7 separate regions of the Homo sapiens genome follow, and all the other regions are linked to region 1. The links come from fine-mapping of genetic effects on plasma protein levels. Region 1 holds a variant in brackets. A gene starts in each other region. All regions are shown on their reverse strands. Distances are between the middles of the regions. Region 1 holds the start of LOC124907990 (a long non-coding RNA gene). Region 2 holds the start of CCL13 (C-C motif chemokine ligand 13). Region 3 holds the start of PPBP (pro-platelet basic protein). Region 4 holds the start of CCL14 (C-C motif chemokine ligand 14). Region 5 holds the start of BCL2L11 (BCL2 like 11). Region 6 holds the start of RSPO1 (R-spondin 1). Region 7 holds the start of CCL26 (C-C motif chemokine ligand 26).

What was found. A credible set is the group of variants that fine-mapping cannot tell apart. PIP is the posterior inclusion probability: the model's chance that the variant is causal. Protein levels are from antibody-based Olink assays in UK Biobank. Linkage for the fine-mapping came from a reference panel and not from the study's own genotypes, which makes the PIPs less certain.
Region 2: it holds the start of CCL13, and the variant in region 1 is the best candidate, but not a certain one, in a credible set for the plasma level of the CCL13 protein (UK Biobank, PIP 0.77).
Region 3: it holds the start of PPBP, and the variant in region 1 is the best candidate, but not a certain one, in a credible set for the plasma level of the PPBP protein (UK Biobank, PIP 0.82).
Region 4: CCL14 starts here. The variant in region 1 is the best candidate, but not a certain one, in a credible set for the plasma level of the CCL14 protein (UK Biobank, PIP 0.64).
Region 5: BCL2L11 starts here. The variant in region 1 is the best candidate, but not a certain one, in a credible set for the plasma level of the BCL2L11 protein (UK Biobank, PIP 0.67).
Region 6: RSPO1 starts here. The variant in region 1 is the best candidate, but not a certain one, in a credible set for the plasma level of the RSPO1 protein (UK Biobank, PIP 0.84).
Region 7: it holds the start of CCL26, and the variant in region 1 is the best candidate, but not a certain one, in a credible set for the plasma level of the CCL26 protein (UK Biobank, PIP 0.72).

Annotation. Positions count from the first base shown.
Region 1 is chr2:224,007,973-224,012,047 of GRCh38, reverse strand. All of the region lies in intron 1 of SERPINE2 (serpin family E member 2), which reads left to right. It overlaps LOC124907990 (a long non-coding RNA gene), which reads right to left and starts at 3,171. Exons shown (of 2, transcript XR_007088102.1): 1 at 2,891-3,171. RefSeq lists enhancers at 2,051-2,626, 1,551-2,750. The variant C/T (reference allele first, on the strand shown) is at 1,891.
Region 2 is chr17:34,354,810-34,358,884 of GRCh38, reverse strand. CCL13 (C-C motif chemokine ligand 13) reads right to left here and starts at 2,405. Exons shown (of 3, transcript NM_005408.3): 1 at 2,283-2,405; 2 at 1,296-1,410; 3 at 275-859. The coding sequence starts at 2,358. The coding sequence ends at 754.
Region 3 is chr4:73,984,500-73,988,499 of GRCh38, reverse strand. It overlaps PPBP (pro-platelet basic protein), which reads left to right and starts at 310. Exons shown (of 3, transcript NM_002704.3): 1 at 310-544; 2 at 848-983; 3 at 1,126-2,061. The coding sequence starts at 397. The coding sequence ends at 1,228. RefSeq lists enhancers at 2,631-3,143, 3,144-3,657.
Region 4 is chr17:35,984,820-35,988,886 of GRCh38, reverse strand. CCL14 (C-C motif chemokine ligand 14) reads left to right here and starts at 2,158. Exons shown (of 3, transcript NM_032963.4): 1 at 2,158-2,316. The coding sequence starts at 2,238. It overlaps CCL15-CCL14 (CCL15-CCL14 readthrough (NMD candidate)), which reads left to right. Exons shown (of 7, transcript NR_027922.3): 5 at 2,183-2,316.
Region 5 is chr2:111,118,444-111,122,507 of GRCh38, reverse strand. It overlaps BCL2L11 (BCL2 like 11), which reads right to left and starts at 1,594. Exons shown (of 4, transcript NM_138621.5): 1 at 1,320-1,594. ACOXL (acyl-CoA oxidase like) reads right to left here. Exons shown (of 18, transcript NM_001142807.4): 18 at 3,960-4,064. RefSeq lists silencers at 1-69, 862-1,156, 1,490-2,029 and enhancers at 1,040-1,159, 2,310-2,389.
Region 6 is chr1:37,632,961-37,637,035 of GRCh38, reverse strand. It overlaps RSPO1 (R-spondin 1), which reads left to right and starts at 2,144. Exons shown (of 7, transcript NM_001242908.2): 1 at 2,144-2,470. RefSeq lists enhancers at 1,743-2,269, 2,270-2,797, 3,326-3,853.
Region 7 is chr7:75,770,619-75,774,688 of GRCh38, reverse strand. It overlaps CCL26 (C-C motif chemokine ligand 26), which reads left to right and starts at 2,478. Exons shown (of 3, transcript NM_001371938.1): 1 at 2,478-2,585; 2 at 2,686-2,800. The coding sequence starts at 2,513. RefSeq lists a silencer at 1,664-1,958.

The DNA of each region.
Region 1 (4,075 bases):
TGGTGTTTGTGAACTCTCAACCACTTAGGGCCAACCAAGAAAGTGGCCTTCAACTCCCACTAGTAATTGACCGAGGTAACAGGTATAAACCATTAGCAACAAAGCAGATAAAAACTAGGAGATAAGTGCACAAAGCTGGTAAAAGGTCACCCACAGTGTCCCCTCCATTGGAGATTTAATTTGCAATTATAATTGCTATTGCAATTATTTATTGCAGAGAATATTGCAATACTTTTGCTACTGAAAATAATAGTAAACATTTTTGGACCTGAATCTTTTTTATTATCACATTAGGATTGATTGATAGAAGGGGTATTACTGTTCCAATAGATAGATACATTATTAAGATTATTTATGCGTACTAGGGATTGCCTTTAAAAAAGATTTTTAAAAAATCAATTTACATTTCTAACACTTGACACTCATTTTTTAATTGGCAAGAATCCAGAGAGTGTTAGTTTCTCGTCTCTGAATTGGAGGCCCATAGGCATATCAGGGTTATTCTAAAGGATCAGAGAAATCATGTTCATGGCCCAGTTTTGATTATAGATTGATAAATAATATCTCAAAATATGATTTCTTAAAATGTATCTAGGTACTGATAAAAAGAATTTGGATTTTATTGACATGTTTAAGAATTCATGGTTGTATTTTATGTATTTTTACCAATACTAAAAACATGGTCATGAACTATGTGTAATATTTTTTATGTCTAAAAAAGGTACTTCCATGTCTCTTGCTGAAGAGAGAAATTAAAAAGGTACTTCCTTGTTTTTAAAGATTGAGAACCATTGGTCAATGTCACTATAATGTCTTGGGTCACCTCTTGGTTGCTGGATTAGGAAATCAGCCATTTGGACCATTACGTCTTAAAGACATATCAAAAAGAAAAGTCTATAGGACTTGATACATAGGTAAACCAGATTTAATGATCTGAGTCAGCAGACCGAAAAACATATCTCAGCACTATTAAAGGTTTTCTGGGACATACTCACCCCTCCCCCTCCATTCCCACAGTAATGGACCCCTCAGTTCTCTTACAGAGACGGCAAAACGCACCAGCATTGTCTTAATTTATTTCTGAGTCTTAAATAGTCTAAGGAAGTTATAAAGATACAGACAAGGCTTTATCAAGGTAGCAGTGTTTGACTGTTTTCTTAGCTTGATCCTTGAGACTTTCTAAATGGTTGCTGAAATACAAATCAGAGTATTTCAGGTCTTGAGCATTGAAGAGGACCAGAAGAAGAGAGCCAGCATTTACTGAACACTTGCTCTGAGCCAGGTATTAGGCTGGTTACTATGTCTTTCAGTTTGCACCTATTGAATTTCCATGGCCACCCTTGAGATATGATTTCTAATATGGCAGAGGACAAAGCTAAGACGGATGAAGATTGTGACTTGCCTTGGATCTCTTGGTTAATGGGTAGTAGGATTGGAATTTGAACTTTAGGTGAATTTTCCCGGAAACTTAGAGGAAAATAGAATGAATATCCTGTAATCTTGAATTTTAAAAGACAGACTGCTAACAAAGCTCTAATCCCCTCCTTCCCCCTAGCCTTTTCCCATCAACCCAAAGAGATTTCAGAATGGATAATATATGGATAAAAGGCACTTGATGTCAGAGTGTACTTTATAATAAAATATGTGTCTTTTCATTGAAGGGACCATTTGGATGTTGCTGCCATACTTTTCAGCGGCTGAAAAGGTATTTCCTAAACATTTTTAGGTTCCTTTTTGGCCAAATTAATTAGTGTCATAGAATGAGCATACACTTTGAAGGCAGACAAAAATTTAAGAAAAAATTCAGATGTCTCTAAGTCTTTCTCCACTAACCTGAAAAACACATTTTAAAACTACCAAGCTGCTGTCCCCTTGATAAGTTGGCATTTC[C/T]TGTTTGTTCTCTAAATTTTAAAGATGCTGAGTCATTTTGCTAGTACTTAGTACACTTCCCAAGGATAACCAAGATGTACTTTAGTTTGCTTGTTCACCTGATTTGGTATCATAAGAAAATGTGGTAGATGTTTGGAAAATGAATACAGGTCTTGGTGGACATTATTTCAGTAATGCTTATACAGATTTGAGAGACAGAGACCATATGTGAGGCTTAACCCCGATTACTTGTACATTAACAATTACTGTCATCTTACAGAGACAGCCTTAATCTCCATGGCTCACCTCCTGAAGAGTTTCTAGAATGCCTCTTGCCAAACACCGTTGAGTGTTGGCAAAGTACTGATGAGAAATGTTTGGTCTGAATGCTGGACAGCACGATTTTACTTAAGGCCATTCAGAAGTCTCAGTTTGGCAGCCACAAACCTTGCCTGTACATTTGTTTTGTTGTTGTTTTTTTTTTGAGACAGAGTCTCACTCTGTCACCTGGGCTGGAGTGCAGTAGCACAATCTCGGCTCACTGCAGCCTCCACCTCCTGGGTTCAAGCGATTCCCACACCTCAGCCTCTGGAGTAGCTGGGATTATAGGCATGTGCTACCACACCCAGCTGATTTTTGTATTTCTAATAGAGACAGGGTTAAGCCATGTTGGCCAGGCTGGTTTCGAACTCCTGGCCTCAAGCACTCTGCCCACCTCGGCCTTCCAAAGTGCTGGGGTTACGGGCTTGAGCCACCGTGCCCGGCCTGTACATTTATTTCTTTGGGAAGCCCTGGCAGGAAAAGCTGTTGAGAGATGTCATGATTCGGACAAAACATACCTGCTGTTTTTCTCTACCTGCTGTAGCCCCTGTAGATTAATAAGGGGCCTTAGGTTCCAAGAACCAGGATCCTAGCAACACAGAGACTAGAAGGATGGCGAGACTTTCCCAGTGCCTGAGAAGGTGTCAGCTTTCACTGAGGGGCGGGGAGGGGAGAGGCTGAGATAAATCCGGGGACTCACCTTGCCGTGCTGTGTGTCGGTTGTTTGTCGCTGGCATCTGCACTGTTAGGATTCCATTTTTAGGCTGGGCTTGATTCAGGAGGCTCGCTGCTGTCACACGAGGGCAATCCACTTTGATTCTCCCAGCCCAGCTTTTAATGCCCAGCAGACTCCTTTATCTTGTCATCATCCAGCGAGCCTCCCTCGGTCTAGATGGCCATGGGAGGCAAACCCGTTCAGTGTCAGCAGCTGGTCTTTCATAATTTGATTTTCCAGTGATGTTTGAGCCATCGGTGTGAAACAGTCACCAGTCTGGCTCTCATAATTTGAATTTCAGTATTTGGATATATTCCAGAGAGTGGTGTAAATGGACTTTGGATTTTCCTTATCACTGTTGCTCAGCATTTCCACAGTTTAAAACATTTAGGGTTTATTAGATAAGGGTGCTCAGTGCTACTGTTTCTCACTAAAAGGAACCAGAGCTCCCTGGAGAAGTGGCTGATTCCATCTGGAACAGAAGATGTATAAAATGAGCCTAAACATCTAGTCAAACCGGAAAGCAAGGAGGCTAACAAGACTGTAGGGTTGTATCAGAAGGTTTAAGAACGAGTGTGAAGAGGCTCATTTTGAGCACCAATAAGAATAAATTTGCAGTGGATCGAGACCCTTAAAGTATGTTGAAAAACACGAGTTTATAGTGATACAGAAAATAGAACCCTCTGGTCAATCAACCTATTTTGAATTATTTTGAAAACTGTTGGATATGGGAAATGAATGAAGAATTTGTCCTGCCCTTGTAACACAAAATAAACCTCAGGGCAACCAAGTAGTTGATTATGGAAAACTTCTTTTTATATAAATATTCTAATTAATAAGTGAGGGAGGAAAGTTAGAATTATAACAGCACCCACATTTGGTAACTCTTAATAAAACAGTGCACTTAGGCGGTCATCATAAGTAGCTTGCTAACACCACAAAAAGAGACAGTCAGCTACCGTCTACTGATTTCACCACCCTCTACGGCACCTCTACAAAATATTCTTACAAAAAGAGAAAATTGACTTGAATCTGATCAGTCCCTACAGCTGGGGTCAGCAGGCTTTTCACGTAGAGGGCCACATAATAACTGTTTTTGGCTTTGCAGGCTATACCGTCTCTCTTGCAGCCGGGCACCTCTGCTCAGCTCCCTATCATAGCACAGATGCA
Region 2 (4,075 bases), not on the chromosome of region 1:
GGTTTACTTTTGGCAGGAGTGTGGTTTTAAAGAAAGAAATGAACTGAATATGAAACGGATGAGTTGCGAGCCAGGAGCGCCCATGCTGGGGACTGGAGCCATTGTTCCAGAACAGCCTGGGCTGGTGAGGCAGGCCCTCCTTGAAACTCAGATGAGCCAGGCTAGCCCCATGGCCAGGGCCTCTGTACATCTGCCTTCCACTGGCATGCCATCCACCCACACCTCTGAGAGCCCCTACTGGTTGGCAGTTACTCCTGAAGAAAACACCACTGTGTAGGAGATTTTAAATAAAATGTATTTTCTGCAAAATGTCAGCAGTCCTACTATTGCATTCATCTTTCCACAATAACATATTTAGCAACACCTCACATTCACAAAGAGCTCTCCTTCCTACATTGCAGCATCCCTTCATGTCCATGACTCCCACAGGCATGCTCTCAACCCCTGGGAACCGAATACAAACCCACTGCCAGCAGCTCATAGTGGAAGGGAAGGGGGCTTAGAGACAGCAACCTACTTGCTCAAGGCCTTGCTTTAGAAAAGATCAGCAATACTCAAATAAACTCCAAACCAGCAACAAGTCAAATAATAGCCAATATTACTTAACACATAGTACATTTTGAATCACAAAACCGAATGCATCCTATTTGAAAATTATGGTAGAAGTATTCCAAAGCATAGAAGAGGAGGCCAGAGGAGAATGGAAAAGTCATTTCACGTACTCCAGCTTGATTTCAGTAGGGGTAGCAGAGTTCAAGTCTTCAGGGTGTGAGCTTTCCGGCCCAGGTGTTTCATATAATTCTGGACCCACTTCTCCTTTGGGTCAGCACAGATCTCCTTGCCCAGTTTGGTTCTGAAGCTGTGGAGGAAGGAGATCTGGCACAGTTAGATGGAACCCTTTGAGGGTTTACCCAGGAGATGACACACTGGGTTCTAAACCTGCCTGGTCCACCTACTACAGGTGAAGGGGCACCCCTCCAGGACAGGAAGTAGGAGGTGTGTGGACAGAAGGGGTCTCTGGAGGCAGCCACTGCTCTTGCTGCCCCTGGGAAACTGATCCTGGCATCTGCTAAAGGGTGTGGGCTGGTGCCCATCCAGGAAACAAGGTGTGGGAAATTATAGGTCCTCTTTGGACCTGTTGTGCAGCCAAAATTGGAGGATTTGCATCACACAGTCTGGCTAGATCTCATCCTAAGATCTCAAGTCAGTCTGACGTCTGTCTCCTGGGGCAGAACTTTGGATTGGGGAATGTGGGAGTGGGGAGGAGCCAGGTGAGCAGGGATTTTTCTACCCACATGACAGCCTTCTGGGGACACCTGCTGGTGGTGATCACATAGCTCTTCAGCCTCTGCAAGGAGATCTTCTTACTGCTAAATGTGAAGCAGCAAGTAGATGGGACGTTGAGTGCATCTAGAAATAGTTACAAAGAAAAAGACTTTGAGGATGTGTTAGGCTTTTCTCAGCTTGAATACAGCAGGGAGCATCTGTATGGGATGCAAAGCAAAGAGGAAGAAATAGATCTTACTCACCCCCAAGCCCAGCACTCCCACCCTAGACCCTGAGGTGAGGTGGGACCTGTGACATGTGCCTCAGGATCTCAAAGGCTCAGCTGCATGGTGGAGACATGTCACAGCCATCTAGGGGAGGCCACGGGCAAGGCCAGTGGGAAAGGTCCTGGGTGTGGTCCCAGATCTGCAGAGTTTGGGACGATCAGATGAGGTCAAAGAAAAGGCCCTAAATCTGGAGTCAGAAGCTTAGGTTTCATTCTTGCTCTGCAATAACCTGGAGGTGGATGGCTAGGGTCCCTTCTGCCTCCAACATGGGCTTCAGCTTTCTATCTTTAAAATTAGATGTTAAAGTGAACCTCTGAGGAGCCTTACTATTCTGGTGGGCTTAGAAGTGGGGCACTTGGCTGGGCCTGGTGGCTCACGCCTGTAATCCCAGCACTTTGGGAGGCCGAGACGGGAGGATCACTTGAGGTCAAGAGTTTGAGACCAGCCTGGCCAACATAGTGAAACCCCTTCTCTACTAAAAATACAAAAATTAGCTGCACGTGATGGCGGGTGCCTGTAATCACAGCTACTCAGAAGGCTGAGGCAAGAGAATCGCTTGAACCTGGGAGGTGAAGGTTGCAATGAGCCAAGATCGCACCCCTGCACTTCAGCCTGGGCAACATAATGAGACTCAATCTAAAAAAAAAGTGGAGGAGCACTCGGGCTTAGGTCTTCCTTGAATAGAGAAACAGAGGGAAAGAGAGGGAGAGTCGAAGGGAGGTGACTTACCTGGCTGAGCAAGTCCCTGGGGGTTGAAAGCTGCTGTCATGAGCAGCAGGCACAGAAGCACTGCAGAGACTTTCATGTTGAAGGTTAAGAGTTGGAGATTTCACAATGTTTCTTTGCCTCTCTGCTCCTCTGGCTGTTCCGCCGGCCTTTTATAGGGAGTGGAGAAGCTTGGAACTCTCAGAGGACCTTGGCCTGAGCAGGGCGTTGACCAAGTCATGATGAAGGGGGATCCTGAATCTGCTGAGCTGGAGCTGGGCACCAAAGACTTTTCTAGGAAATGCAAGAGGGAAGCTGAGGGCTGAAACAGCATGGCATGGCTTCCTTCTGGCTGTTCAGGCCACAAGGAGCCAGAGAGGAGAAAGGGACACAGACGCGCCCCAGCCATTCACCATGGGAAGCCATAAAGGAGCTGTTTTCTTCTTACTTTCTCCAACAGGAAAGAGAAAAACAATGAAAATTAACTCCTGTAGAGAAAGAGTGCTGTGCTAAGGACTCTGTTCACGTTATATATTTAGTTTGAGGAGGTACATACCATTATTATCATGCCCATTTCATAGAAGAGGAAACGGATGCAGAGAGATTAAATAACTTGACCAAAATCTTATGGGAAATGAGAGGGAAAGCTAGAAGAGAAAGCTGGTCTGCTTATATTTTATCACCAAGGCAGTTTCAACTTTTGTTTAGCAGCAGAAGTCTTTTTCCAAGTCAACTTTTATGTGGAAGTCTAATATCTGAAACAGATTAAGTCAGATTTCTGATGACAGGGGCTCCTTACATTACATATTGTGTCCCCTTCTGCCCCTCAGGCCCAGAGGGACATGGTTCAAACACCTCTGATTGATGCAGGCCCCGTGTTTCCAGGAAGGACCATTGGGTTTCTAGAGCTGTTGATGGGAGGGCTGGGGTGGCCCTCAGAGCAAAGAAGTGAGGTGTTTGGCCCATTCCTGGGCTCCTCCTGCGAGGGGCACATATCTGGGAGCTGGGAGGTGGGGAGGGAATGGCTTAAAATGGTTGAACATGTCCCTTTCCCACTCATCCCTAGCTCCAAGACTTGGCACAGTTTTTGTGCCTTCCTGGAATACTCATCCCTCTGCATTCCACTATAGCAAAATAAGCCCAGTGAAAGTAAAGGGAAGAAATAAAGAGCTAGGATTAGAGAAATAGGAAACAGTAAATATTAGAAAGGATAGATGAAGCCCAAAGCTGGTTCTGTAGCCTATAATTAAGCTAAAACTCTCCTGAACTGAAAATGAAAAAAAAAAGAAAAAAGGGGCTGAGGCGGGGGGATCACTTGAGGTCAAGAGTTCTAGAGCAGCCTGGACAACATGGTAAAACCCTGTCTTTACTAAAAAAAATACAAAAATTACCCAGGCATGGTGGCACATGCCTGTAATCCCAGCTACTTGGGAGGCTGAGGCAGGAGAATTGCTTGAACCTGGGAGGCCGAGGTTACAGTGAGCCAAGATTGCACCACTGCACCCCAGTCTGAGTGACAGAGTAGGACTCTGTCCCAGAAAAAAAAAAAAAGAAAAGAAAAAAGGAAAAAGGTACATATAACCAGTTGCAGAGCCTGCAGACACCAAAAAGAAAATGATAAGAACCTTATGCCAAAAATTTAGTTTAGAGGAAATGGATGAATTTCTTAAAAATCTAACTGACCAGGGTGCACAAATAAATAAAAAATAGAAAGTCATTCTAAAGCTATTAAAGAAATGGAATCAGGAATTGAAAATCTTCCCACAAAACATTCTCTGGGCTCAAAGGGCACAAACAGCTAATTCCTCCAAGCACTG
Region 3 (4,000 bases), not on the chromosome of region 1:
GCGTATTGTTATAAATCATACAAAGAAAATGCATGTAGTATTTCAGTCTAGTTCTTACCTTCCTGAACGGAGTTCTTACACAGGTGTAAGGAAGATAAGTATTGAGAAAGGGAGAGTGGGAATGTGAAGTGATGCACATTAAGCAAGTTAGTAGGAATTTGACCTGTCTGGTCTTTCTCTGGGTTGGGCACAGCTTCAAATGCTTATGTGTGTATCACCACATACCCTCACTTCCTCCTTTCCTACCTCTTCCTTCTTACTGGCTTTGAGAAAGAGCATATAAATGACATCTTCAGGGCATGAGAAGCCACTTATCTGCAGACTTGTAGGCAGCAACTCACCCTCACTCAGAGGTCTTCTGGTTCTGGAAACAACTCTAGCTCAGCCTTCTCCACCATGAGCCTCAGACTTGATACCACCCCTTCCTGTAACAGTGCGAGACCACTTCATGCCTTGCAGGTGCTGCTGCTTCTGTCATTGCTGCTGACTGCTCTGGCTTCCTCCACCAAAGGACAAACTAAGAGAAACTTGGCGAAAGGCAAAGGTAGAGGCCCTGCTTCTCTGCACTTGTTGCTGCTTCTGCTACACCTGTCTCTGGGGTAAAGACTAGCTTGGTGCCTTTGGGGCTGGAGAGGGCCATTATACCAATAACTCCAATTGGAGGAGACACACAGGGGGGTCACTTCTCACTTCTTGTGTGCTGGGCAATCTTCTGGGCACTTTACTAAAGCGTTACAGATCATATTCACAATGGCTTTATGAGAGAGGTACAATTGCCCTCAATCTGCAAATAAGAGACCTGAGGAAAATATTCATGACCACCAATAGGTCACATTTTCTACCCTAGAGGAAAGTCTAGACAGTGACTTGTATGCTGAACTCCGCTGCATGTGTATAAAGACAACCTCTGGAATTCATCCCAAAAACATCCAAAGTTTGGAAGTGATCGGGAAAGGAACCCATTGCAACCAAGTCGAAGTGATGTAAGTTGCTGTTTCTGTGCTATTGCCTTATCAGAGAAACCCTCTACCTCCATCCACATATGCACTCGTTTCCTCCAGTCTCATGGATTAGTTCTGATATTCAGATCAGGACACCCACAGATAACCCTGTTCTCTTTTGCAGAGCCACACTGAAGGATGGGAGGAAAATCTGCCTGGACCCAGATGCTCCCAGAATCAAGAAAATTGTACAGAAAAAATTGGCAGGTGATGAATCTGCTGATTAATTTGTTCTGTTTCTGCCAAACTTCTTTAACTCCCAGGAAGGGTAGAATTTTGAAACCTTGATTTTCTAGAGTTCTCATTTATTCAGGATACCTATTCTTACTGTATTAAAATTTGGATATGTGTTTCATTCTGTCTCAAAAATCACATTTTATTCTGAGAAGGTTGGTTAAAAGATGGCAGAAAGAAGATGAAAATAAATAAGCCTGGTTTCAACCCTCTAATTCTTGCCTAAACATTGGACTGTACTTTGCATTTTTTTCTTTAAAAATTTCTATTCTAACACAACTTGGTTGATTTTTCCTGGTCTACTTTATGGTTATTAGACATACTCATGGGTATTATTAGATTTCATAATGGTCAATGATAATAGGAATTACATGGAGCCCAACAGAGAATATTTGCTCAATACATTTTTGTTAATATATTTAGGAACTTAATGGAGTCTCTCAGTGTCTTAGTCCTAGGATGTCTTATTTAAAATACTCCCTGAAAGTTTATTCTGATGTTTATTTTAGCCATCAAACACTAAAATAATAAATTGGTGAATATGAATCTTATAAACTGTGGTTAGCTGGTTTAAAGTGAATATATTTGCCACTAGTAGAACAAAAATAGATGATGAAAATGAATTAACATATCTACATAGTTATAATTCTATCATTAGAATGAGCCTTATAAATAAGTACAATATAGGACTTCAACCTTACTAGACTCCTAATTCTAAATTCTACTTTTTTCATCAACAGAACTTTCATTCATTTTTTAAACCCTAAAACTTATACCCACACTATTCTTACAAAAATATTCACATGAAATAAAAATTTGCTATTGACTTGTTGTCATCTATTATTAATTTTAACAGGATTGTTGGGGAAAAAAAGCTTTAATTTTCCTCTCTTTTTTGTATACTTGGTATTTCACAGTTTGAACAACAAAAGTTACTAAATTGATGATCGGTGTCATTCTTAATGTAGTATGATAACAGTTCCAATTTATTAATCATTTTAATATGCCAGGAATACTAAGTGTTTTCCATGCATGAACTAAACAATTTTTTAAAAGATAGATATGATCTGGTTAAAAGAACATCCTCTGGAGTTTGAATAATGAGGTAACCTGGCTCTGCCACTTGTTAGCTGTGTATATCAGGTCATGTTGCTTAATTTCTCTGTACCTTAGGTTCTTCATCCCTAAAATGGGGATAATATTGCCTCCCTCATAGAGTTTATGGAAGGATTAAAAAAGTTAATAAATTTAAGGTATTTAAAATAATGTGTGTCATAAATAAGCCACACATAAATGTTAGTAATTATTTCTTATGATTATTATTATCCTCCCCAGTGTTACAGAAGAGAAAAATCAAGTTTATAGAGTTTAAAATACTTGCCCACTTTCAGATAACTAAGTAGGTAACAGAGTGGGAATTTCAAATTGTGCTCTTAACCACCACACCACAGTGCTTTCCTCAACTCTTCTTTCTCTAATGAAGAGATTACATTACATATAACATAGTATTATTCACACATGTAATACAACTTGATACATAAATAGCATACTGTATATACTATAATAATTATAGGGTATCAGGCATCTCACTCATTATGTTTAGTGGTTTCCCACTGAAACTTGACAAGACCAGCTCCTGAGACATGGCACAGTGTTGACACCATGCTTATACCTCCCGAGATGCAGATGTCTTCTGTTTTTGAGTGCATGTATTGAGTTACTCTGTTTACATGCAGAGAAAGAATGATTCAGTTGCCACTCAGGACCACCTGGATTCCTTTACACTGCAAACATTAAAATCTGGGTGTAAGACTGTAAAAACCCAGCGTGTTGCCCATCCATATGCAAAATCATCCCTCCCCTTCATTCTCTCTGCTGTTAACTCAGAAGGGGCTTCAAGTTTCAGGTTCATAAACACATATGAATTACAAAACATTCTGCAACAGCCATTGTGTTGGATACAGGATATTCAAAAATACAGTCATGTTTTGCTTAACAATTGGGATACATTCCGAGAAATGCATCATTAGGTGATTTTGTCATTGTGTGAACATCACAGGGTGTGCTTACACAAACCTAAATGGTATAGCCTACTACAAACCTAGGCTATATAGTACAGCCTATTGCTCCTAGGCTATAAGCCTGTACAGCATGTTACAGTGCTGAATACCATAGGAAGTTGTAACACAATGGTGAATATCTGAGTATCTAAACATCTGTAAATGTAGAAAGATATAGTAAAATTATGGTATAAAAGAGTAAAATGGTACACCTCTGTAGGGCAGTTACCACAAATGGAGCTTGTAGGACTGGAAGTGGCTCTGGATGAGTCGGAGTGTGAGTGGTGAGTGAATGTGAAGGCCTAGGACATGACTGTACACTTCTTTAGGCTTTGTAAACACTGTACACACTTAGGCTACACTAAATTTATAAAAAATATTTTTTCCTCAACAATAAATTAACCTTAGATTACTGTGTTTTTTATTTATAAACTTCTTAATTTTTAAACTTTTTGACTTTCGTAATAACACTTTAAACGCATTGTACAACTGTACAAAAACGTTTTTTCTTTATATCGTCATTTTATAAGCTCGTTTTCTTTTTTATCTAGTTATTTATTTATTTTAGAGAAGAGGTCTTTCTCTGTCACCCACACTGTAGTGCAGTGACATGATCATAGCTCTCTGCAGCTTCAAACTCTTGGGATCAAGTGATCTTCCTTGATCTTCACTAAAGATGTGCACCATCATGCCCAGCTAATTTTT
Region 4 (4,067 bases), not on the chromosome of region 1:
TCAGGGTCATCTTCAATCCCTCCCTCCAAGCCTAGCCCAGGACTTGGCATATGATACTGTGTCAAAGAAGTGATGTGGTCACAAAACCTATTCCTTTTTCTTCCTAAGCATACAGATGATGTATATTTTCCATCCCTTTGTCATTATGTTGGAGCCAGGTTACTTGATGCTGGCCATGGAATGTGGGTGAAAGTAATTTGTACCATTTTCAGAACTGATCCACAAAAATCTCCCAATCCTCCTCTGCTTCTCCCTTTTTGTATCAAGCTTGGAGGCCTTGTGCTGAAAATGGTGGCATCCAAGGTAGAAAAAGGCCTGGTTCCTGAATGAGTACATGGAGGATCCCAACACACACACCATCATCCCACTACTGACCCACACTGGACTGTAACATGAGCAAGAAATAAACTTTTATTTAATTAGTCTGCTGGATTGTTTATGATAGCAGTTGGCACACACAGACTAATGTAGGTAGGAACTCAATACTTGCTGGAAAAGTACAGGAACTTCCTGTAAGTCTCCTAGAAACAACTTGGCAGGTTGGCTAGTTTCCACAAAAACAAGAAGTAAGCATTATTTCTTTCCAACTCACTTTTCCTATAAACAACTTGTTTCCTGAGATTGTTCCTGATAACAATTATTATCATTTAACTTGAAGGGTTTACATAATGTTGTTATTGATGATAAGAAATATAGAAAATTTTTAATTGATGACTGTCTCCACAACTAACCATGAGATTTCAGCCATTTCCTATAAGATACACATATGTAGACCTGGCTCAATTTGTTTATTCATCCTTCTTTTAAAATGTATATTCATAAAGCACCTGGTATACACTAGGTTCTGCGTGAATGGGCAAAGATAAATAATAGATGTTCTCCATCCTGATGATTCAGATGAGGAGAGGAGATTAAATAACCATCTAACCACATCAGCAAGCAGAATGGGGGATGTACCTCCAAGAACAGCATGGTGAGGGCACTAAGCTGAGAGCCTGCGGAGATGAGATCTGTCCTGCATCCAAATCACTGTGTGCACATGAGAAAGTCACTGGTCCTTTCTGATTCCCAGCTTCCATTCAGTAAATGGCCAGTTTAGACAAATCAAATGGCAGATACATAGCATGCAAGCTGCACTGCAACAGAAACTGCACGTTGGTCACAGCGTATCTTCCCAATGTGCCTGGATATGGCCTCAGAATCATTTCCAACACAGAGCTCCAGTCCACCACTAATCAATGAAACCTACTAGCTATCCCTGAATTAGACATTTTCTAGGGTTCCCACCAAGCTTCTTTGCAGCAAAAGTCAGAGAAACCAGGAGAAGGTCCCAAAGAGATCCACTATCTGATTTCAGAAAGGACTAAGACTAAAGGCTTTATAGAAAACCCATAAGCTTTTACAGAGCTCCGTTGGGAGTCCCATGTTTCTTTATGGCATAATGGGTGAGAACACAGACTTGGAAGCCAAACCACCTGAATTTGAACCCCAGTTCCATTTACCAACTGTCAAAAGCTTAGGCTTTGATTCTGAGCCTGTTTCCTCAACTGCTGTTCTAAAGATTAAATAGGCTAATATTCATAAGGCAACTGGGACAGTGGCTTGTGTGTATAGCAACCATTATATAAGTGAATTATCTACTGAGCACCACAGCACTTCTTCACTCCATGGTGTGGTGACCAGAATGGAGATGAGACAGAGAACTGCAGGTTCTGCTTCGAGTTTAAGTTAGGATTTCCCTTGACCAATGAGACCTGACTTGGAGGAGTCCTGGCCTCATTCCATTACCCCAAACACCCTCTAGTCTCTAGATGAACAGATCCTGAATGTCCAGGCCCCACGTGGCCTGTTCTAAGGCCTGAGATGGAATTGGATACAGGACACATCCAGCCTTGAGATCTTTTGCTAAGTGTGACACAGTGCCCCCAGCCCTGTGCTCATGTTCATGCCTAGGGAAAGGCTTCTATCAAAAGAGTTGAACTTCTTCCCACTGGGGATGGAAGACCATTTCCTCCCTTAAACCTTGGCTCTCCCTGCTTCCTTCAGGCCACCAACAACACATGTGCAGGATATGAAATTGCTGAGGCATCACTGCTTTCCTACTTCCCTTCCAAGTCTCAGCTCCCTTATTTTAAAAAATATTTGGCCTCAATGATCATTTCTCAACAATTCCTCACCGCAGGAGCCTCTGAAGCTCCCACCAGGCCAGCTCTCCTCCCACAACAGCTTCCCACAGCATGAAGATCTCCGTGGCTGCCATTCCCTTCTTCCTCCTCATCACCATCGCCCTAGGGACCAAGACTGAATCCTCCTCACGTGAGTGCAATGCCTTGTCTTCCTTCCAACCTAGAGCCTGCAGGGAAATAAGCAGGAGTGAGGTTGGGGCTCAGGGGAAGACCAGGAGCAGGGACTCAGAAAGGAGGGCTGGTATCTTCTTGAAATTGTGTGTATAGCAACATTATATAAATGAATTATCTACTGAGCACCACAGCACTTCACCCCATGGTGTGGTGAGCAGGATGGAGATGAGACTTAGGACTGTAGGTTCTGCTTAAGAGTTTAAGTTGGGATCTTCCAGCCTTGACCAATGAGACTTGACTTGGGAGACTCCAGGCTTCATTCCACTACCCCAAATGCCCTCTAGTCTCCAAATAAACAGATCCTGAATCTCCAGGCCTCACATGGCCTTGATCTCTTATCATTGCCCCCCAGGACCAGTCCCCCCTTGCCCTCAAGGACATGGAGTGAGACCAGCCTGCCTCTCTACTCCCTCAATTTCTCTCTCTTTGCCGCTAAGCAAAAGAGTGGCCCACCCCATTTGGGGTATATTTCCTCAGGGAGATTAGGAGCAGTGTCTTGAGCCCCTCAAGGGCATTTTTCTATTGGCCTCCTGAGGTTTGGGCCCAGCCTGCTTCCAGCGTCACCTGTGCCCAGTGAGTGCAGCATTGCTTGGGTATGGGCTGGGGGGAAACACGACAGTGTGGGGTCCATCCTAGGCCCCCTTTTCTCAGCTGATTTCTTAGAATAAGCTGCCTTTAGAGATAACCAAAACTATTTATCACTCTTCCATTTTACCTACTCTCCTTTTCAGAAACTGGGGGGAAACCGAAGGTTGTTAAAATACAGCTAAAGTTGGTGGGTATGTGCACAGTTTGACTTGCCCTCTCCGATGTCATTTGTCAGCTCAGAGGAACAAGGTGGGAGAGTATAGGAGCTCTGACTGGGTCTCAGGAAACAGGGGCCCCTTATGCCGTTCTTTGGATCGTGAGGATGCTGCCTGGAATGGAGCTGGAAAACAGGATGAGACCCTTCCACCCAGACATCTGGCCACCCTCAGTGACCTCTGAGGCCATTGTGATGCACATCCATGATTCTATGAAGCAGGGTCACATAACATGCACACACCTGATTTCTCCACTCCATAACCACAACATGTGCCTGTTTGTACAGGGCTCTTGGCCTACAATGTCCTTCCTGCTACCTCTATAATTCAAGCTTGGGGTGGCTGCTGTCACCTTGCTTCTCCTATAAAAGCCATGAAACTTCTCAATCAGAAAATAGATGAAAAAATCACCCAATCCAGTGATTTTTAAAACTTTTTAGACCACAAAACCTTTTCTTCAAGCAATATCTTCCACAGAGGCCCAATATGTAAAACAGAAAAAATGGGTTGAGTAGGGTACAAGACACCACTCTCAAATGCAGCAAGGCCTCCACAATAGTCCCTGAGGCCCCCAGAGCTCCAGGGAGCTCAGTGTAAAAACCACTGATGCAGTCCAAGGGCCTCATTTACAGAGGAGGGAACAGGGGGAAAGTAAAATGGCCACAGTACACAGGAAGCACAGGCAAGGTTAGGTTAGGATTTGGGTGCCCTGACTCTGTGGCCTTTGTCCTTGGGGCTTGCTGTGGGCATCCTGCTCTCTCTGCAGGTTGTCGGTTCAATGGGGACATGGGCAGGGTGGAGCACTAGGAGGGGCTGGGTTTGCATTCCCAAATGGCATGTCTCCAAATCCCTATTGGGATTTCTTCCAAATATTCCTCCTATTTGGAGCACCTTTCCCGAATAA
Region 5 (4,064 bases), 110 Mb after region 1:
TGGGGGCGGCGCCTACGGGTCAGGCCGCCAAAGGCGAGGCGATTGTTGACAAACTCGCCTCCGAGCGCTGCTCTGGCCGTGGTCGTGGCGGCTGCCGCTTCGTCGGAGGATTTGAGGGCCGGCTGGCCCGGCCACCCTGCCCATCCCTGTGCTCCTTCCGGACACAAGCCTTAGCAGCTCCCGCCGTCCTGGACAGCCAGTCACCTGGAGACAAAGCAGGACTTGCGCCGCGCCCGGACCCGCAGGGCCATCCCCAGGCCCAGTCCTCGCCACTTGTCCTTGTTTTGGCCCGTCGGGGGCAGACCCTAACGGCCGTCACCGCCCTGGCTGTGGCAACTATTCTCCTCCAACAACTTCCTCTCTCTCCTGGTGCGCCGCAGACACGAGTCAAAGCCGAAGAGCCACCCCTGGCCGCGGACGCGCACGTCCGCGACCATCGAGTAAATTCACACCCTCCGCCCTGGCGTCCGTCGGGCCCTCCACCAGCAGCGCCAACCCTGGGGCAACAGGTCCCAGAGGGCACGGCGCCGCCAGCCTGCACCGCGAACCGGGTCGGGTGTGCTCGGGCATGCGTGAGCCGCTAAGATAGCCCGGCCCAGGGACCGAGCAGGTTCTGCCGGCCGCGACTAGTCCCCTGCGCGGTCCAGGTGGTCAGGGGAGGACCTAGATTTCTCGCTGCCAGGGAATCGTGCGGATGGCACAGGCCGCAGGACTCCTGCAGAGCAAGCAGGGGCCCCAGGTACGCTTGAGAAAGCGAACGCAGCAGTGGCCCCGAAACCTTGGCCTGAATGAGTAAAAGGAAAAGCCGTGTCTCGTCAGTTAAATCACCACCGCAGTTCCGCAAATCCTCCGCAACAGGCCCACGCGCCCCAAAAAACCAAGACACGAAACACCCTCACACTGCGCGGCCGCTACTCTGAGGGCGCCGGAGCCGGCGGCGAGACTTTCCAGCTGGGCGCACAGCCCGATACTACGAGCAGGTCCTCAGCTCCCGGGCCGGCGCCGAAAGGCACGCGCTGCCTCTCCTCCTGCCCGGACCTACGACCCTTCACCAGGCCCGCGCGCAGCATCCCGTCCCAAGCCGCACTTCGGCCAAGAGCCTGCAGGTTCCGCGTGAACGACTTTTCTTTAAAGAGAACCTGCCCGAGAGGGAACCCGATCCACACGGATCCCCACCTCCCGCCGGCGACAAGCGGCGCCGATGCAAGCGTCTCCGCTCGCACGTGCACGGGAAGCGGGCAGTAGGTGGTGCCGTTCGGGCTCCAGCGCTAGTCTTCCTTCGGTGCCAGGCCCGCGCCCCGGGATTTGGAGGTATTTACCTTGCGTTTCTCAGTCCGAGAGTCAGAGTCAGACATTTGGGGGAACAAGGGCCAAGAAAGGGCGCCGAGGCGGTGGCGGCGGGAACGCAGCGAACCGAATACCGCGATGATGCGATCGCAGTGTGGCAGGGTTCGCAGGGTGGCTGCAAGAATCAAGTGGTGGTAGTGGCGGCGGCGGCGGCGGCGGCGGCGGCGGCGGCGGCGGCGGCAGCGGCAGCGGCGCTGGACGCAGAGCTCCAACAAACTGCAGACCAGGCGGCTGCGCGGAGCGAAGTGAAACCTGCGCGGCCCTGCAGCCCAGCTCTGGCTGGCGGCCCCGCTCCTACGCCCAATCACTGCGGACCCCGCCCCCGCTAGGTCCCGCCCCGGCGCGCGGGCTGGCAAGCTCCGCCCCCCTCGGCGCCGCGGCCGCCGGCGCGTGCAGGCTCGGACAGGTAAAGGCGGGGGTTGCCCCGCTGGGTTGCCTCCCGCGCGCGCCGCCGTCCCTGGCGTGTTTACCGGAGTAACTCTGCCTGCTGGCGGCCATGTGCGCGCCCATCCCCCACCCCGAAGTGTACCCTAGCCTCCCGCTCACCTACCCCAACCCGGCGGCGGCCGCGGCGTGCGCGGCACAGAGGGGGCGCTCCGGTCACAGCCTCCGCTGGCCCGGCCGGCGGTGTGAAGCCTCGGGAGGCGCCCTGCGCTCTCACTGTGCCCTGAGTTTCTAAGCCGCTCTGGGGCAGGCGCGGGGACTGGGTTGGTCCTCGCGAAGGCGCGGGGCGAGGTCTTTGAGCTCTCCTCCCTCTGAGGGTCCCTGGCGCCGGGCGGGACGCGGATCAGCAGGCTGCGCATCTTCCTCGCCCGGGCCTCTCGCGGGACTCAGGCACCCTCCTCCTGCCACCCCGCAGGGGCTCTCCAGCTTTTCTTCCGCGCCCAGTCGCCCTAAGAGACAGAGGCCGTGGGGGCAGGACGCGCCCAGAAAACGGCCAGGCGCGGTCCCAGTGGGCGTCTTCGCCGCCTCCCGGGTGAGGGCGGGAGGCATGTGCAAAGCAGGTAAAATAGGGAAATGAAAAAAGCACTCAGAAAAAAAAATCCTTTTAGGAAAAAAAAAAACGAGGTGAATGGCGGCCTCCAAGTGAGAGAGAACGTTGCGCACTGCATTTGGCTAGGACCCCCAAGATTTGCTGGGCTCGCAGATAACCTCGTAGGAGCTCCCTCGACTGGCTGAGGCCAGTGAAGGCAGAACAGCTGAGTTCGGGCCGCGGTGCGGGAGCGCAAAATACCCCGTCCCTCCTCCCCTCCCGCCTCCCCACCCATCCCTTTCCTCCCTGGAGTCCGCAGCACCTCACTCTACCTCCCAGGAGACCAAACTCCATGCCGCCTCTCCAGTCCTCTGAGTCTGCACCCGGGTCTGCTCTCCCAACGCGTGGCTGGCGCCCCAACCCCGGCCCTCCTGTCTGCTCCTCCCGCGCCTCAGTTCCCCAGCCCCAGCTTCTAGACAACTGCAGCGGGGGTGTGGGAGGTGGATCGGGAAATGGAACATCCCGCAGGTGAGGTCAGGCTAGATGGATTAAGGAAACTCTGTAAAGGGACCACCCTACACACCACCGCAGCCGGCAGGGAGAAGGAAGGGGCCTTGCCGTAGAGGAGCAAGTGAGGAGGCGTTGTCCCGCCGTCCGGCCGCCTGGAGCAGTTTTTAAATTCATAAGCGCTTCTGTAACGTCAGTGGGACACAGCGCAGCCCCATGCCAAAGTCTCAGCGCATTTTCGGGTGAATTTTGAGCGAGGTGAAGGAGGCCTTGGGTTCCCGGAGTCGCTGGAGGACGCGCGTCGGGCCCCGCCCAGTTATTTCGCTGCAAGAGGGAAAAGGCACGAGCGTGGACACGGCTAAGTAGACTCGGAGGCCGGAGATCGGTCCTAACCGGGCCTCGAAGTTCCTACCGCGGACGAACTTTGCTCTTCGCGGCCGTCCCGCGTCGCACCCGGGGAAAAGCAACACAACTTGCTGCGCGGGCTGAGAGCCCGAAGCCCGCCGCACGCCGCAATGCTCCGCGCTCCCCGCGGGGTCGGGCGACTCAGACAGGGACCGGAAAAGAACCACGCAGAAGAAAGCCCTATTTCTTGTCGTCTGTTCCTGTGCAGCCTTGCAGCCTCGCCGCCCCCGCGTCGCTCGCTCTCGCGACCCTGTGAACACTTTGAAAAACAAGAGTCGGGGGAAGCAACGGGCTAAGCGCTGCTATTTGGGGCACTAAAAGGAAGCCGGCCAGAGGTGGCGGGTTCATGCGTCCCCCGAGACCCAGGCCGCGTCGGGGGCCAAGAGCCCTTACAGCCTTCTCCCGCGCCGTCGGGAGGTCCTCCCGGAACTGGGCCGGAGCGCAGAGAACGCAGTGTGAGAAGGGCCCATGGGTTTTAGGTCACCTCCTTCGCGCTGGACGCGGGCAGAGCGGTGTCCCTTTCTGTCTCTGCCAAGAGACGTGGAGGGAGGGAGAAGGGAGGATGGCTTGTGCTGAAAGAAACAAGAATGAAGTCGGGCAGCCGGGATCTGAGAAATGGGAAATCCATGGCCCTTGTTCGGGACCACAGGCTTTGCCGACGTGGTCTCTCCTAGTTCCGAAATTGCCCAGGCCCGCCTCCCCACCCTCTGCAAGCAGCGGGAACGACTTCCACATCGCTTAATTTCTTTATTAAACTTTTCACCTATTCTCTTCTAAAGGACAGACTACAGCGTCAGATGGTAAAAATGTTTTCCGCGCCTTGTCTTGCCGT
Region 6 (4,075 bases), not on the chromosome of region 1:
ATCTCGGCTCGCTGCAAGCTCTGCCTCCCGGGTTCATGCCATTCTCCTGCCTCAGCCTCCCCGATAGCTGGGACTACAGGCACCCGCCACCACACCCAGCTAATTTTTTGCAATTTTAGTAGAGACGGGGTTTCACCGTGTTAGCCAGGATGGTCTCGATCTCCTGACCTCGTGATCCGACTGCCTCAGCCTCCCAAAGTGCTGGGATTACAGGCGTGAGCCACTGCGCCTGGCCGAGAAAAAGACATTTCTAAGCAGAATGAACAGCATATGCAAATTTAGAGCAACACAGCTTTCCCAGGGAAACAACTCATTTGGCATAACCTGAACTGGGCTGGCCACTTGCAGGCTGTGTGTCTCTGAGCAATTGACTTGGCGTCTCTGAGGATCAGAATTTACATTTATGGGAAAAAAGGAAAAAAGAAAGGAACTACAATAGTTGCGAAATTAGGTAACAGAATATATGTGCAAAACACAGTGCTTGGCATACATTAGGTGCACAAGAAACATTCTTTCTTATTCACCCATTATTGTCACATGGTTCTAATTCGTTATCTTCTGTCACCCAGGTGGCTTTCTTCCCTTTCTCACTCATTCCTGAGCCTAGTAACGAGGCCCCCCAACTTCCACAGACTTTTCCTCAGGCAGGAAACCCGAGCCCACTGCCTGGCCTAGGACAGCTTCTAGGGCTGTGTGGTTTGTGTTATTTCTTCTCTTTTCTCTCTCTCTCCCTCTTTTTTTTCCTAAATGCAACAAAATAAAACCAAACAAAAAGCCCAATGCCTGGCGTGGCTTGTCAGAGAGTTATGCAAGTGTGTAAAAAAATAAAATAAAATAAACATTGAGTTTTCGGCATTTGGGGCTGTTTGATTAGACACAGAGCATAGCCAAGGGCCGGTTAGACGCAGGGAAGGCTCAGGGCAGAGGTGAGAGAGGAGGGACTTGAGTGGGGGTTGGAGGTTGGAGGGGGCCCCTGGACCAACTCGGAAATGACTGTTTGCCTCCTGCAAACTTGGCAATGCTCTGGCTGAATGAACCCAGACACTGGGCATTTCGGACCCAACTGCTCCACTTTCTCTGGCTATCCACCATCCCTGTTCCCTGGCCATTGGGACACTCTAGGGGTCATTACATCCATCCTCCTGTCATTGTAAACGACCCTGTGCCCTTAACTCAATAGTCAGGGCTCCCCCCTTCTCTCCTAAGAGGGAGATTCCACAGCCTGTCTTGATTACTCACCCCCCCTATACACACACACAATCAGTACATCTTTTCTGCTCTAGCTTAACTCCCACTAACTACAGTTTTAGCCCATTTTCCTTTCCCAATCTGAAGTGAAGCTGGAGAACAGCTGTTTGTCACTCTAAGAAGTGAGTCTCCTTCCCTCCCTTCTTCGGGCTTGACTTCAACATCATCTGGGTCACTGCAGGTGTCTGTAGCCGTTCAAGACTCATTCCACAAACATGTATGGGGTTCCCACCATTAACCAGAAGTTTGTAGCCTTCATTTCATTGAACCCTCAGAACAGATGAAGCCTTGCGATTCAGAGAGGTTCAGTAACCTAGGCATGACCACACAGCTGGTAAGTGATAGAGCCAGACATGAATCTAAGTGTTATTGTATGATCTCCCTCACTCTCACCTACCAGCTGCCTCTGGAGGTGTCCTCACCTCGGTGCCCAGGATCTGATAGCCTTGGTATTTCTTCTGAACTGGGAAGATGCACAGAAGATTTGACCCTGAAGGGGGAGAGGGTGTGGTCAAGACCACCAGGCTCTGTGGAGCCTGTTCCTTGTCACTTTCCAGGTTCCTGATGGGGAAACTGGGGTTTTCATGAGGGTCTCCGGCCGCGTTCTGACGCCAAGATGAGCGGAGTTGTTGCGGGTTCTCTGGCTGCGTGGAATCCCCGGGGCGCGGGGAGGGGCAGGGGACAAAAGCAGAAGGTCTGCCCCAGGGTCCTGGGGACTTGTCCCTCCGCCAGCCCCGCGCTCGGAGCGCAGAGCGCCAGCTTCGGGCAAGGACGTGTGGACTCCCGGGCCGGCGCTCCAGTCCATTTTTTCTTGCGGATCCCTGGAAGGGGGGCCGGCTCGCGGGGGGGACTGCGAAGGGGGGGATTCCCTCCCTGGTGCTCGCAGAGGACTGGCCCCTCTCCGGGCTGGGAGCTCCGGCCGAGCGGAGGCGCGACGGAGAGCACCAGCGCAGGGCAGAGAGCCCGGAGCGACCGGCCAGAGTAGGGCATCCGCTCGGGTGCTGCGGAGAACGAGGGCAGCTCCGAGCCGCCCCGGAGGACCGATGCGCCGGGTGGGGCGCTGGCCCCGAGGGCGTGAGCCGTCCGCAGATTGAGCAACTTGGGAACGGGCGGGCGGAGCGCAGGCGAGCCGGGCGCCCAGGACAGTCCCGCAGCGGGCGGGTGAGCGGGCCGCGCCCTCGCCCCTCCCGGGCCTGCCCCCGTCGCGACTGGCAGCACGAAGGTGAGTCCCCTCGTAGCTGCCCCATCCTTCTCCCCAGCGCCCCCTTCCCCGGGAGCTGGGGCGCGGCGGGCCCTCCCGTCGGGGCTGGTTCTAGCTGGGTGCGTGGGGGGAGACAGAAAGGAAGGGGAGTCTGATCGCTCTCCGGTCGGCGATCAGGACAGGGCACCTCCTGCACCCTTCCTGCAAGTCTGCCGCCCCCGTCGGCCCTCAATCCAGCAGGCAGCCTCTTCCCCTCGAACTCCCCTCCATCCCGCAGCCCCGGGTGATCATCCTCACTCGCAGTCCTGAATTCCCCAAGTCCACCAGCCCTGTTTATACCCCGCCTCCAATCCAGAAGTTCTTGATCCTGGGGCTCATTGGCTCGGATTCCCCCAAGTCCCACGGTCTCTGGTGACCCCCACCCCAGTCCGCAGCCTGGGCCTGGGTTCGACGTGGCAGGCGGCATGCGCTGCGGCCCCCGGTGCGCAGCGAAGTGGCGCGGCTCCCTGGCCCTCGGGGTCTGGCGCTCAGGAACCGATGGTATCGCTTAGTTGGGGAGAGGTGGGGGCTATGTTCGCCCGGGACTCCCTGGAGGGCCGGGACAGACTTGGAGTGAGTGTGCTTGGGGGCAGGAGTTTTCTTGTGAAACTGGCCTCTCAGACGTGGACAGCTCTCTTGGCTCTTGAGGGCCAGCCAGGGGAACCTCAGGTCCGCGTCTCCCTCGGCACCTGTTGGGGCCTCTGCGGGATGGTGGGGGAGGGAAGAAGAATGTGCGCGCTTGCGGGGGTGATGGAGGGGTGAAGAAGCCATCCTCCGCTGCCCTTGCTTTTGGAGGGGGGGCACGGCCCCAGCACCTGGCTTGGCTCCGACAGACAGGCTAATCCCGACAGGTCGGACAGGCACATACTTTGTCCCGCCCCCCGCCCGCAATTCTTCTGCCCCCGCCTGCCAGCCTGCTGGGCGGCCAAAACTCTCCAGCCTGTAGCCCGGCCCGGGGAGGGCTAATGCGAAATTATCTAGATAGTTTACATTTTTGGGTCTGTATCGGGCCCCTGATGGAGTACCACTTTATTCTGACGGTATTGCAGGCAAGAAGGTGAAAGTGATTCCAGCCCCCTCCCGGGGCTGAGTTTCTGCCCTCAGCTCCACCTCCAGCTGTGTCCCCCTCCCCGACCTGTATACTCCCCTCCGAGGCCCTTGTGGCCTCTCGCTTTGGTCTCCCTTCTCAGCTCTGCCTCTGCCACCAGCCCCGTCCCCACTTTGCAGGTCCACTCCCCAAGCTGGGTTGTGCCCCACACTCAGCAGCTCCCAGCGGGTTGCCCCGCCCTCCCCACACCCAGTCCTGGGTAGCAAACCTGAGGGCAGGTCCCTAACTGGGTCTGTAACCCCTGGGACACTTAACCATTCAGGGCCAGGTCTCTTCCCCTGTAAAATGGAAATAATTCTACCTTCCTCCTTCCATTGTGAGGAGTAAACGAAGACCTGGCACATGGCAGGTGGAGGGAGGCATCTAACAAGTGTGAATCCCTCACCCCCACAGTGGCAGAGAGAAATGCCCTTTCTTACCCCCACCAATAACCTGAGGCACTGCCAGCAGTCCCCATTCTATCTGTGTAGAGTGAGCCT
Region 7 (4,070 bases), not on the chromosome of region 1:
AGATCAGTTGAGGTCAGGAATTCGAGACCAGCCTGGGCAACATAGTGAAACCCTGTCTCTACTAAAAATACAAAAATTACCCGGGCATGGTGGTGCATGCCTGTAATCCTAGCTACTCAGAGGCTGAGGCAGAAGAATCATTCGAACCCAGGAGGTGGAGGCTGCAGTGAGCTAAGATTGTGCCACTGTACTCCAGCCTGGATGACAGAGCAAGACTCTGTCTCAAAAAAACAAACAAACAGCTGGGCATGGCGGTTTATGCCTGTAATCCCAGCACTTTGGGAGGCTGAGGCAGGTGGATCACTTGAGGTCAGGAGTTCGAGACAAGACTGACCAACATGGTGAAACACCATCTCTACTAAAAATACAAAATTAGCCGGGCGTGATGGCGCATGCCTGTAATCCCAGCTACTTGGGAGGCTGAGTCACGAGAATTGCTTGAGCCTGGGAGGCAGAGGTTGCAGTGAGCCGAGATTGTGCCATAGCACTCCAGCGTATGCAACAGGAGCAAAACTCCATCTCAATAAAAACAAAAACAAAAACAAACCACCCTCTCATGATCATCCAGACTGTTGTGCCTGGTTTGAGTGACAGGCAACTCACCATCTATCCTCTTCCCACCTACAACAGCTCTGACTATCACAAACTTCTGTTAAGTTCTTTTAAAAATTTGGCTGAAGCCAGGTGTGGTGGCTCTCCCCTATAATCCCAGTGCTTTGGGAGGCTGGAGTAAGCAGATCGCCTTGAAGCCAGGAGTTTGAGACCAGCCTGGCAACCTTTGGGCTCTACAAATTTCTTTTTTTTTGTGACAGAGTTTTGCTCTTTTTTCTTAGGCTGGAGTGCAATGGCACGATCTTGGCTCACTGCAACCTCTGCCCCCCAGGTTCAAGTGACTCTCCTGCCTCAGCCTCCCAAGTTGCTCGGATTACAAGCATGAGCCACCACAAAATTAGCCCGGCTAATTTTTGTATTTTTAGTAGAGACGGGGTTTCACCATGTTCGCCAGGCTGATCTCAACCTCCTGACCTCAGACGATCCCCCTGCCTCTGCCTTCCAAAGTGCTGGGATTACAGGCGTGAGCCACTGTGACTGGCCCCACACACACACACAAAATAATAATAATAATTGACCAGGTATGGCCAGACGTGGTGGCTCACTGTAATCCCAACATTTTTGAAGGCCAAGGTGAGACAGTCACTTGAGCCAAGAGTTTAAGACCAACCTGGGCCACATAGAGAGACCTCATCTCTATTTTTTTTTCTTTTTTGAGACAGTCTTGGTCTGTCGCCCAGGCTGGAGTGCAATGGCGGGATCTCGGCTCACTGTAACCTCTGCCTCCTGCATTCAAGCGATTCTCCTGCCTCAGCCTCCCTAGTAGCTGGGATTACAGGTGCCCGCCACCGTGCCTGGCTAATTTTTTTATTTCTAGTGGGGACGGGGTTTCACCATGTTGACCAGGCCCTCTCTCTCACTATATATATATATTATTTGTTGTTGTTTGTTTGTTTTGTTTTGTTTTAAGCCTCGGGTGATTGTGATGATCTGTCAGGTTTGGGATCTGTTAGATCTCTCAAATGCCCCCAGCCAGCCCTGGCCCTACAGGTGTGGCCCCAAGAAGATGGGCTGGCACCTGCCTGGACCCTGTTTTTAAATATCCATTGTCGAGGTTGGGCTACTCTATGATCACATCTTGAGACCATCCAGAGCTCCACACAGAGATAAGCAATGCTTAGAAAGGAAACAAAACTTTGCCCAAGAGCCAGAAACCTATCTTCAACAACCAATTGTGCTATAAAGTAACTTAGTTCAGTTCACTGGAATATTACTTAATTTCCTCTGCTTTTTCTTTTTAAACAAGAAAGTGTTGACTCAGCCAACAGCACTGGGAACCAGACTCCCTGGGGCCTGCCTGCCCCTGCTCTTCTCCCAAATTCTCTTCTTTTTTTGTCCCTGTTGATGGAATTCAATAAAGGGATCTCTACCATCTGTCACTTGTTTTTTTTTGTTGTTTGTTTGTTTGTTTTTTTTTTTTTTGGCAGAGTCTCACTCTGTCGCCCAGGCTGCAGTGCAGTGGTGCCATCTCAGCTCACTGCAACCTCCACCTCCCAGGTTCAAGTGATTCTCCTGCCTCACCCTCAGGAGTAGCTGGGATTACAGTTGCCTGCCACCATGCCCGGCCAATTTTTGTGTTTTTAGTAGAGACAGGGTTTCTCCATGTTGGCCAGGCTGATCTTGAACTCCTGACCTCAAGGGATCCGCCCACCTCGGTCTCCCAGAGTGCTGTGATCACAGGCATGAGCCACCACGCCCAGTGCCAGATTATCTTTCTTCACTGTCTAATTTCATTCCTATGAGTATTAGTTTACTTTTCCTTTGTTGGGTCAAAAGTGCTGCTTCTGTTCCCAACCACAGAATTCTCTGGAATTGTTTTCAGGGCCGTCTCAGTCTCATAAAAGGGGATCAGGCAGGAGGAGTTTGGGAGAAACCTGAGAAGGGCCTGATTTGCAGCATCATGATGGGCCTCTCCTTGGCCTCTGCTGTGCTCCTGGCCTCCCTCCTGAGTCTCCACCTTGGAACTGCCACACGTACGTAGCTGGCCCATTCCCCTCCTGGGGTTCCTTCCCGGACCGCCTGGGAGTGGATGGAAATGAGTATCTCCAAACCCTTCCTCTCCCTGATTTTTAGGTGGGAGTGACATATCCAAGACCTGCTGCTTCCAATACAGCCACAAGCCCCTTCCCTGGACCTGGGTGCGAAGCTATGAATTCACCAGTAACAGCTGCTCCCAGCGGGCTGTGATGTGAGTATTTCTCGGACGTACTTTCTGGGGCCCCATCAGTCATGCAACAGGATGGGTGCTGGGCAGACCCCCAGGATGAGCCTTGGGATGGGAACCTGGAAACCCCACCTCTGCACACTAACAAGTGTGACTCTGAGCTTCAGGTAGAACCTGACTTTTTTTTTCTCTTTTTGAGACGGAGTTTCTTTCTTGTTGCCCAGGCTAGAGTGCAATGGCACGATCTTGGCTCACTGCAACCTCCCCCTCCCGGGTTCAAGCAATTTTCCTGCCTCAGCCTCCCAAGTAGCTGGAATTACAGGCACATGCCACCATGCTCAGCTAATTTTTGTGTTATTAGTAGAATTTCACCATGGTTGGCCAGGCTGGTCTTAAACTTCTGAGCTCATGTGATTTGCCCGCCTCAGCCTCCCAAAATGCTGGGATTACAAGTGTGAGTCACTGGACCCAGCCAATCCCCACTTTTAATAAACTCACAGTGAAGTAAGAGCTCAGGAATCATCAGCTATGATGAATAACCTTGAAAATGTGGCTAACAATTAAATGACATGTTGAGTGCAGGGTTCCTTTCTGGGGTGATGAAAATATCCTAAAATTGATTGTGGTGATGGTTGCATAATCTATGACTATACTAAAAACCATTGAATTATAATTATAGCCTTTAAATTGGTGGAGTTGTACATGGTGGGGAGGTTTAGACGATCGCTTGAGCCCAGGAGTTCAAGGCTGCAGTGAGGTATGATCGCACCACTGCACTCCAGCCTGGGTAACACAGAGAGACTTCATCCCTAACAAAAGAGAAAAAAAAGAGTGAATTACAGTTATCCCCCAGTAACCACAGGGGATTGGTGCCAGGATTTTGGCATACAATTTCCCCTGAATTTATGCAGCTTTTGCATCACCGAGTTTTGTATTTTCTATCCTCCTTTGGTTGGCAAAAGGCTGCCTATGAGTGGGCCCACAGAGTTCAAATCCGTGTTGTTCAAGAGTCAACTGTATGTGCCGTGTGAATTATATCCCAACAAAGCTGTTCTATTACAATGAAAGAATCAGCCAGGTGAGGTGGCGCAGGCCTGTAAGCCCAGTTACTCCGGAGGCTGAGGCAGGAGAATCGCTTGAACCCGGGAGGCGGAGTTTGCAGGAGTAGAGATCGCGCCACTGCACTCCAGCCTGGGTGACAAGAGAGAAACTGTTTCAAAAAAAATAAAATAGGCCGGGCGTGGTGGCTCACGCCTGTAATCCCAGCACTTTGGGAGGCTGAGGTGGGCAGATC